Regions from separate parts of the Homo sapiens genome. Here region 2 is linked to region 1. Evidence: fine-mapped expression QTL. A gene starts in region 1. The other region holds a variant in brackets. All regions are shown on one strand. Distances are between the middles of the regions.

Region 1 (5,390 bases):
TTTATTATTTATTGAGATGGAGTCTTGCTCTATTGGCCAGGTTGGAGTGCAGTGGTGTGATCTCTGCTCACTGCAACCTCTGCCACCCAGGTTCAAGCATTCTCCTGCCTCAGCCTCCTGAGTAGCTGGGATTACAGGCGTGTGCCACCACATCTGGCGAATTTTTGTGTTTTTAGTAGAGACAGGGTTTCATCATCTTGGCCAGGCTGGTCTTGAACTCCTGATATCGTGATCCACCCCCCTCGGCCTCCCAAAGTGTTGGGATTACAGATGTGAGCCACTGAGCCTAGTGAAAGGGTTGTTTTAGACAAAGCTAGCCTCTCTCTCCATTCAGTTCTTCCCACTGTGTCGTACCACTTCCTAAGAGTGCTTTAGAATGTAGGGTTCTGATAATATAGTCGAAGAGTTTTTGTTTTATAGACATATCATACTTTTGGCATGCAATGGGGACAGTTCCTGGAAAGGGTCTGTTATCTGCAGAAGGCTATTTCACCACTTGAGGCTTTGAAGAACTGAAGATCAGCTGACTTAGTTTAAAACTATTCATGTTCCCAGCAGCTTTAGGATAGCAAACCAACTCTGGGTCATCTTTATTTAAAGCCTCTCTTTAATAACCTGTAGAGAGGGGCTTTTGTTAATTGTGACTAGTTCTTTAAGAGAAAGCGTAACGTGATGGTGTTCCTTTCTCTGTTCTCTCTTTAAAAATGGTTTAAAGAATTTACTGGGGTTGATTGATAACCAGCATTCACAGGTCAAGGCATGGGTCATAATCTATTTTCCAGTCTGCATATGTTGAAAGCGCCTTTGCAAAAAGGCTTTTTGCAAAGCCTTTTATAACTGAGGAAATTATGGCAGTGAATGAGAACAGACCTAACTGGCTCTGTCTTGCTTCTAATCTTTAAGCTGTCCTTGTTCATTCCTGGGCATATGCCAAACTAACTTTGGGAAGGAATCCAGTTCATGTTTTGACTCTGAAACAAAATTGGTAGTAGCCCTTTCCTGAATAGACCCCCTTCTTGCCTGGGGACCAGTCTGCCTTTGCAGGACCAACAAATTAGCTACAAGATTAGAAATTATGGTTTAGGGGTCATGCAGCCTCTGGCTCCAAGAGTCTGAACCTCCCCAAATTGCTCCTGGGGATAACATCACTATTGTAAAACCTAAGATCAGTGCTTGAGATATTTTGCAGAGCCTGGACTCGGTGGATCAGCTGATGCCACACAGACCGGTAATTGGGCTCACCCAGTTCTGCCATCCCACCCAGGAACAGAAGACAGCAAGAAAACCTCACGTCGACCCCCCATGATTCCATCTCCAATCTGACCAATTAGCACTCCCACTTCCCAAGCCCCTACCCGCCAAATTATCTTTAAAAATTCTGATCTCCGAATCCTGGGGAGACTGTGTTGAGTAATAATAGAACTCCGGGCTGGGCGCGGTGGCTTATGCCTGTAATCTCAGCACTTTGGGAGGCTGAGGCAGGTGGAATCACTTGAGGTCAGGAGTTCCAAACTAGCCTGGCCAACATGGTGAAACCCTGTCTCTGCTAAAATACAAAAATTAGCCGGGCGTGGTGGCGGGCGCCTGTAGTCCCAGCTACTGGGGAGGCTGAGGCAGGAGAATCGCTTGAACCTAGGACGGGGAGGCTGCAGTGAGCCGAGATCATGCCACCGCACTCCAGCCTGGGCCACAGACAGAGACTCCGTCTCAAAACAAAACAAAACAAAACAAACAAACAAACAAAACAAAAAACTCCGGTCTCCTGCACAGCCAGCTCTGCGTGAATTACTCTTTCTCCATTGCGATTCCCCTGTCTTGATAAATCGGCTCTGTCTAGACAGCGGGCAAGGTGAACCCACTGGGCAATTACAATGTCACTCAAGGTCTGAAATGGAATGTTTAATATTTTCAATTACATTAAAGAGAAGAAAAAAAGTAAAAAACAGGAAAACAAAAAACAAAATAAAAACAAAGATTGTTAAAAATTCAATTACATTGTCTTTTCCTAGCCCTAAAATTTTTCTTTTGCAAAAGAGTCTTGTGAAACAGATTAAAGGCTTAAAAAGAAACAAAACTCCTAAATTTCAGGGGTAATTTGCAAAATAAAAGATTTCTTTTGCATTATATCATTCACACTGCAGAAAGGTTTCGGTTCTATGCAATCTGATCTTTTTCCACTTTTTAAAAGTTAATTTGCTTTTACTTAGCACTATTATAGAACAGGTATTTTCAAATAGTTTTGCAATTAAACACAAAAACTATAATTTTTGTGGCGAAGTAGGTACTAGTTGGCAAACACTGTTCCTTAGTGTAAAACAGAATTCTAAGTTTTCAGAAATGGAGTCCTAAAACTAGCACTGGTCTTGCAAATCAAGTTCTGCAGCTTAGTTTGGGAAAGGTTCCCTTTTGGCTCAAGGCTTAACTGGCTCCACCCAGCTGCTGAAATGTGATACAAGTTGTAACAAAACCGGAAGTTGGTTAGGCTGCCTTCGCTTCTCAAGGTAAGTGTCACGTCTTTTTCCTTAATGTCAAAGCTCTTTGTAAAGCGTTAAAAATCAAATCCAGCTTAGCGACAGACTGGAGAGCGAGTGCCTGTGCTGACCAGGGCAGTCGGCCAGGCAGAACGGGTGCTGTATTCCGAAACTATGTTCTGGAGCTTGAATTGAGCTAATGAGTGTTCACTAACGAGTTAGGTTAATATGTCCTGTGACTTTGACTAACAAGCTTTAATTCCAAGATATGGGTGGTTATAAGTAGAGACGTGTTTGGGATCCTGAAAATCATTGACTTTATTCTTGCAGGAGTTTTTTTTTTGTTTTTAATTTTAAATTTAAAACTGTAGGAACTCTTTTTTTATATTTAAAGCTAGTGGCATGGTTACCTATATCAGGGTCACTTAGAACCTTATTTGGTTTTTAAAGTGGCTTTTTATCTAGAACTTTTAGTCCCCTTACCCTCCCACTCCCTAGCCCTGGTGTGTCGTTAAAATTTCAGAAAGACTCCAGGGTGGCAAGGTGTTATCACTGCACTTATTTTTGTGTGTGCTTGTCATACTGCCCTAAAGGGTAAAGGGGATTTTTCAAATTGTAAATGTGTTATTAGGAATATTTCTTAACATAGCTAAACTTTTCAGTTCAGATATTTTCATTTGCTTCTGTATTTTTATTTTTTATTTTTATTTATTTATTTATTCATTTATTTTTGAGACGGAGTCTCGCTCTGTCCGCCAGGCTGGAGTGCAGTGGCGCGATCTCGGCTCACTGCAAGCTCCGCCTCCCGGGTTCAAGCGATTCTTCTGCTTCAGCCTCCTGAGTATACTGCTGGGATTACAGGCGCCCGCCACCACGCCCGGCTAATTTTTTGTATTTTTAGTAGAGACGGGGTTTCACTGTGTTGGCAAGGATGGTCTCTATCTCCTGACCTCGTGATATGCCCGCCTCCGCCTCCCAAAGTGCTGGGATTACAGGCTTGAGCCACCGCGTCTGGCCTATTTATTTATTATTTTCGAGACGGAGTGTTGCTCTTGTGGCCCAGGCTGGAGTGCAACGGCGGGATTTCGGCTCACTGCAACCTCTGCCTCCCGGGTTCAAGCAATTCTCCTGCCTCAGCCTCCTGAGTAGCTGGGATTACAGGCAGGCACCACCACACCCGGCTAATTTTGTATTTTTAGTAGAAACGGGGTTTCTCCATGTTGGTCAGTCTGGTTTCGAACTCCCAGCGTCAGGTCATCTGCCTGCCTCGGCCTCCCAAAGTGCTGGGATTACAGGCGTGAGCCACCGCGCCCAGCCACTTCTGTATTTTTAAAAAAGTGGTAAGATTTGAGTATTATACTGGGATAGAACTGAAGTTGGGGGCTTAATTTGATCTATCAGCTTATTGAAAACAAAGACCTTTTAAGAGATGGTTTTGTTAGGTTGGAGAAGTGAGTTTTAGTTCGTCATTTAGTTAGCCAGTATGTTGATTTTTTTGGTGAAGTGTACTCTCTGTTTCACACCTGTCAGCTTTTTTAATATTGGATTTTCTCAAAATTCACATAACAATCACACTGTATGAGTACTGTTTTGAAGGTTGTCTGCTAGTCAGAATGAATGGAGATCAATGTGTAGGACACCTTTACTGATATCCAGAGGTTTACCAAAAGACAAGTCACCAAATGTGGCAGAAAAACATGATAAAATTTATTAGGAAAAACTAAAGCTTATGGAGTGAACAGTTATTTCAGGTTGGTGGAATTAGGCAAGAATCCAAGAAAGGAAGACAGTTTTATATGGGAGACTTTGTTAATGGTGGTCATTGTGCTAGATATTTTGGAGATAGTATTTTATTTAATCCTCATGCAAGCCATTGATATTGGTGGCATTGTCTCTAACAAGTGAGAAAACTAAGACTCAGTAAGGTTAAATAATTTGTCCAGGGTCACTATGGTGGTGCCTGCTGGATTACATTAATGGACAGATTCAAACCTAGGTCTGTGATATTTCAAAGTCCATACACTTCATTGTATCATAGGACAGTAGTTGACGGCGTTTTAAATGGATCTTGAAAGAGGGGTGAAGGTCTTCTTTATCAAAACAAACAAAAATAGTAAAAGTAACATAGAATGTTTGAAAATAGAAAAAAGAAAATATCTAACCACCTTCAAATCAGTTTCTGTACAGTCTTACATGTACATACTTTGTAGTGTTTTTTGAAATTATAAAACACTACATGCTTTAAAAAAAATGCACATTATAAAGGGCATTAAAGAAAGGAAGCCCACTCTTCCCATCCTGAAAACACATACCTTCCTAAGGGGTAAACACTGTTGAGAACAATTGGAAGCATGTATAAAGGTTTTTTTCTTTTCCTTTTAAGTTATGTATATTTTGGTACATTCCATATCATTTTGCAGTTTTCTTGTTTTGATTCCTCAGTGGAGCATGAGCATGTATCTTCTTAACATGCAGATTCATGTCTTGGGATTTTTGTGAAATGAGTTCATACTTGCAAAGTACTTAAAACAATGCCTACCTCCTAGAATGCACTCAATAATTATTAGCTGATGTATTTGTTATCTGTTTACTCTATTTCATTTTGTTAACGTTTAGCAAGTATTATATAGTTTGGGTATAGCGTAGTTTATTTTTGTAACCACTTAAATTATCCAACATTTTTGCTACTGGAAATAATCCTTGCTTAACTGTATGGGTTTTTCTGTAAGATATATTTCTTTTCTTTTCATTCTTTTTTTTTTTTTTTTGAGACAGAGTTTCACTCTTGTTGCCCAGGCTGGAGTGCAATGGTGCCATCTCGGCTCACCTCAACCTCTGCCTCCAGGGTTCAAGCGATTCTTCTGCCTCAGCCTCCCGAGTAGCTGGGATTACAGGCATGCACCCCCAAGCCCGGCTACT
Region 2 (5,390 bases), 73 kb before region 1:
GCAGAGAAAGGAAGAGAGTATATTTTATTCTTAAAAGCTTCTCCAATTTCCTTTACCGTTTCCTAACTGCTAGGCAGGTGTGGGAAAACAAAAATAATTTTAGTCTAATCTGGTTGGAAACTAATTCTGAGCCAATTATTTAAATAATCTCTTTAACCCAGTCTCTTTGAAATCATTGTTCTATTGTTTCGACGCCCCTTTCTCTCTCTACTTTGTTCTAAGAGATGTCTAGTATAAGGAGCAGGATCTCACATGAACTGGTTGCACTGGGGGAGTTGAACTCTGTGACCTTGAACTGGTTCTTGTGCAGGGGCTGGCATCACCTAATGTGTATCTGTCTAGTCCTGTTCCTGGTAATCCTGTTGGCACAAACTATTGATGTCTGTAGCTGATAACTTCCTGTCTATTCTTTCTTGGCTTGGCCAGAGTCTAAAGGCATCCTCCTCCCCTACTGTCTCAGCCTTTCTTGATCCTACTTTCACTACAGACCCCTCTCTGAGTACCTAAAATGTTCTCTGCCTGGTCCAAGGCCCAAGACATCCATTTGATAAGGCTTTGCTGGAATCACCTCAACTCTGTCATGGTGGATCTATAAAATGTGTACTGGAGCTGAAACCCAGGTCCTATATGTAAGTGATCTTGCTTTACCCTCTTAATCATTCTAGGATCCCTCTTTTTGGACCCCCCCCAACCCCCGCACCCTTTTTGCCTAGTATAGCATTCTACAACCAGAGTTCAGAACAGGGAGCAGAACAAAAAGCCCTGTGTGCATTCAGTAAACACTGTGTTTGCTGTGTACTAAGCACTGTTCTATGCACTGGGGATACAGTAATGAACAAAACACACAAAAATCCTTGCCTGCATGGAATTTATAATCTAGTAATCCCCTCAACCTATTGGACTTGCTTCTATCATGATACATCAGACCGTTTCCTTCGCCTCCTCTTTTCTTTAGGTTTTCTCATCTTTACAATCTTTCAAACCCTTTCTTAAGAGAATGGGTTTCCCTTAGAAATTTTTTTGTTTCTCAAACTGCCCATAGTCTTGCTGCAAAATCCTATTTTGAATGTCAGGTGTTAAACATCACCTCTCCTTCCTCTATGCATTTATTCTATTACAATCCAAATCTCCTACAGAGGCAGATGGGTGTCTTAGGCTGAATGGAGAAAGTCTTGCATATTGCAAAGGCAAATAAGAAAGTACATTAATATCTTTAGAAATACTAACTTCATTATATCAGAAACAATAATGCACCATTCCCCCCTTCCAAATTCCTGGCAGCTACTCCTTTCTGTCTCTATGATGTTGATGACTCTAGGTACCTCATATAATAAAACCATACAGTAGTTTTTGTTACTGATTTATTTCACTTAGCAAAATATTGAGGTTCATCCATGTTGTAGCATGTGATAGTATTTCTTTTCTCTTTCTTTCTTTTTTTTTTTTGACAGGATCTCACTTTGTTGCCTACGGTGGAGTGCAGTGGCATGATTTTGACTCACTGAAGCCTCATCCTTCCAGGCTCAAGTGATCCTCCCATCTCAGCCTCCCGAATAGCTGGGACTATAGGCTCATGCCACCATGCCTAGCTAATTTTGTTTATTTTTATCTATTTATCTTGTTGAGACGAGTTCTCATAATGTTGCCCAGGCCTGTCTCGAACTCCTGGACTCCAGCAATCCTCCCACCTACCTGGGCCTCTCAAAGTGCTGGGATTACAGGCATGAGCCACCATGCCTGGCCTAGGATTACTTTTTTAAGGCTGTCTAGTATTCCATTTTGTGTACACACACATTTAGTCATCTGTTAATGGACATGTGGTTTGCTCTTGGCTCTTATGAATAATGCTATTAGGAACATGAGTGTATTAGTTTGTTTTCACACTGCTGACAAAGACATACCCGTGACTGGGTAATTTATACAGGAAAGAGGTTTAATGGACTTACAGTTCCATGTGGCTGGGGAGGCCTCACAATCATGGTGGAAGGCAAGGAGGAGCAAGTCACATCTTACATGGATGGCAGTAGGCAAAGAAAGAGCTTGTGCAGGGAAACTTCCCCTTATAGAACCATCAGATCTCATGAAACTTATTTACCAACACGTGAACAGCAGGGAAAGACCTGCCCCCCATGATTCAATTACCTCCCACCGGGTCTCTCTCACAACATGTGGAAATTCAGGATGAGATTTGGGTGGGGACACAGCCAAACCATATCAGTGGGTATACAATGATCTCTTTGAGATCATACTTTCAATTCTTTTGAGTACATGCCCAGTAGTAGAATTGCTGGATCATATAGTAATTCTATTTTTAACTTTTTGAGTAACCACCATAATGTGTTCAACAGTGGCTGTAACATTTTATCTTCCCATCAACAGTGCACAAAGATTTCAGTTTCTCCACATCCTTACCAACACTTATTTTCTATTTTTTGTTTTTTTTATAGTAGCCATCCTGGTAG[A/T]TGTGAGATGGTATCTCAATGTGTTTTTGATTTTCATTTCCCTAATGGGTAGTGATGTTGAACATTTTTTTATGTGCTTACTGGCCATTTGTAAATCTTTTGGAGACATGTCTATTTAAGTCCTCTGCCTACTTTTGAATTTTTGTTGTTGTTGTTGAGTTTTAGATTAGTTCATTACATATTCTAGATATTAATCCCTTATCAGATGTATGATTTTAAAATATTTTCCCCCATTCTGTAGGCTGTCTTTTCATGCTATTGATAGTGTCCTTTGAAGCACAAAAGTTTTACATTTTAATGAAATCCAATTAATCTATTTGCTTTTTGCCTGTGTCTTTGGTGTCATATTCATTGCCAAATTCAATATCATGAAGTTTTGCCCTATATTTTCTTCTAAGAATTATATAGTTTTAGCTCTTTTGTTAGGTCTATGATTCATTTTGAATTAATTTTTGTATATGGGGTTAGGTTAACAGTCCATTTTCATTATTTTGCATGTGGCTATTCAGTTTTCCCAGCACTATTTGTTGAAAAGACTGTCCTTTCCCCACTGAATGGTCTTAGTACTGTTGTTGGAAAACATTTGACTATATATACTGGGGTTTATTTCTGGGCTCTCTATTCTATTTCATTTGTCTATCTATATATCTGTCTTTATGCCAGTACCACACTGTTTCAATTACCAAAGTTTTGTAGTAAGTTTTAAAATCAGGAAATGTGAGTCCTCCAATGTTGTTCTTCTTTTTCAAGATTGTTTTAGCTGTTCAGGGTCCCTTAAGATTCCACATGAATATTAAAACTAATTTTTCTATTTCTGTAAAAAAAAAGTCAATCTGTAGATCACTTTGGGTAGTACTGACATTTTGACAATATTAATCTTCTAATCCATGAACCATGGGATGGTTTTCCATTTATTTATGTCTTTCTTAATTTCTTTTAGCAATGTTTTATAGTTTTCAGTGTACAGGTCTCCTTTTGGTTTGTGAATTCCTAAGTTTTTAAATGCTATTTTAAATAGAATTGTTTTCTTAATTTCCTTTCAGATTACTCATTGTTAGTGTATCAAAATGCAATTGATTTCTGTGCATTGACTTTGTATCCTGCTGCTTTGCTGAATTCATTTATTCTAACTGTGTGTGTGTGTGTGTGTGTGTGTGTGTGTGTGTGTGGTATCTTAGTTTCCTACATATCACATCTGTGAACAGAGATAATTTTACTTGTTCCTTTTCAATTTGGATGAAGCTTTCATTTATTTGTCTTGATCAATTGTTCTGTCTAGGACTTTCAATATGTTGAATAGAAGTGGTGGAAGTGGTTATCCTTGCTTTGTTCCTGACCTTAGAAGAAAAGTTTTCAGTCTTTCACTGTTGAGTATGATGTTTGCTGTAGATTTTTTTACATATGGCTTTTATTAGGTTGAGGTAGTTTTCTTCTAGTTTGCTGAGTGTTTGTATCATGAAATGATGTTGAATTTTGTCAAAAGCTTTTTCTGCATCAATTGAGATGATTCTTTATTTTTTATGTTTAATTTTTTTTTTTTTTTTTTGAGACAGAGTTCTCACTCTGTTGCCCAGGCTGGAGTGCAGTGGCGTGATCTTGGCTCACTGCGACCTCTGCCTCCCGGGTTCAAGTGATTCTCCTGCCTCAGCCTCCTAAGTAGCTGGGACTACAGGTGTGTGCCACCACACCTGGCTAATTTTTGTATTTTTAGTAGAGACAGGGTTTCACCATGTTGGCCAGGTTGGTCTTGAACTCCTGACCTCAAATGATCCGCCTGCCTCGGCCTCCCAAAGTGCTGGGAATACAGGTGTGAGCTACAGTGCCTGGCCTCTTTATTTTTTAAAGAATACATATTTTCTTTTCCTTTTTGAAGTATCACAGGAAAGGGCTTGATTTTGCTATATCTTATAGCAGCATGGTAAATTTATGGTTAGCATAGTGCTAACCATGATGCATTTACTGTCTTTTCAAAAGCTTTAACTTTGGTTAGTTTTTTTTTTTTCCTCAGTTTTGAATAGGAATTGATTTGACAGCTGATTTTGTGTGTCCTTTGCCCAGCTCAGAAGGGTGGAAAACAAACCTGTCAAAACAAAGCTCTCAGAGTGGCAAAATTCCTAAGAATGCATCAGGTATCCTGACCTAACAATTAAATGTCTGTCCTACTAGAGGGTGAGCTTATTGAGAGGAGAAAATATCTTTTCTCCGGAATCCCCAGCACCTAAAACATTGCCTGTTGTATAGAAAACACTCAATAACATCTTGAGAAGGAATCCAAGAACAGTGTGTCTCTTGCCCTTTCTTCCCTGTCCTTTCCCCAAGAGAGAATACATCAAAATCAGTAACTTCCATATAGTTAATTTACTGTGAAGTATAAATATGAAAACATTCAAGTTCTACAAATAGTGCAAAAGTGAGCAGTTATGACATTTGACAAACTATTGTTGAATTGAAAGGTTTAGAGTTTGGTATTAAGAAAGGACTGTACTCTCTCATGTACTCCATGTCATAATTGATTGCTTTCTTTTTCCAAAGCTATATAGACTCATGTATTATCCACTTCTTCTTCTTTTTTTTTTTTTTGAGACGGAGTTTCGCTCTTGTTGCCCAGGCTGGAGTGCAATGGCGCGATCTTGGCTCACCGCAACTTCCGCCTCCCAGGTTCAAGCAATTCTCCTGCCTCAGCCTCCCGAGTAGCTGGGATTACAGGCATGCACCACCATGCCCGGCTAATTTTGTATTTTTAGTAGAGACGGGGTTTCTCCATGTTGAGGCTGGTCTCGAACTCCTGACCTCAGGTGATCCGCCCGCCTCGGCCTCCCAGAGTGCTGGGATTACAGGCGTGAGCCACTGCGCCCGGCCAATCCACTTCTTAAGAGTTAAGTTGATAGATTGTCTGAGGGTACATGGCTAACCAGTAATTAAAGCCTG

The links. PIP is the estimated chance that this variant, and not a neighbour inherited with it, causes the effect.
Region 2: its variant is the best candidate, but not a certain one, in a credible set for the expression of FRRS1 in whole blood (TOPMed, PIP 0.57).

The regions. Positions count from the first base shown.
Region 1 is chr1:99,763,718-99,769,107 of GRCh38, reverse strand. FRRS1 (ferric chelate reductase 1) reads left to right here and starts at 2,473. Exons shown (of 17, transcript NM_001361041.2): 1 at 2,473-2,501.
Region 2 is chr1:99,837,187-99,842,576 of GRCh38, reverse strand. It overlaps the pseudogene RPL39P9. Among named protein-coding and RNA genes, the nearest start is that of AGL, 10 kb to the left of the region's middle. The variant A/T (reference allele first, on the strand shown) is at 2,463.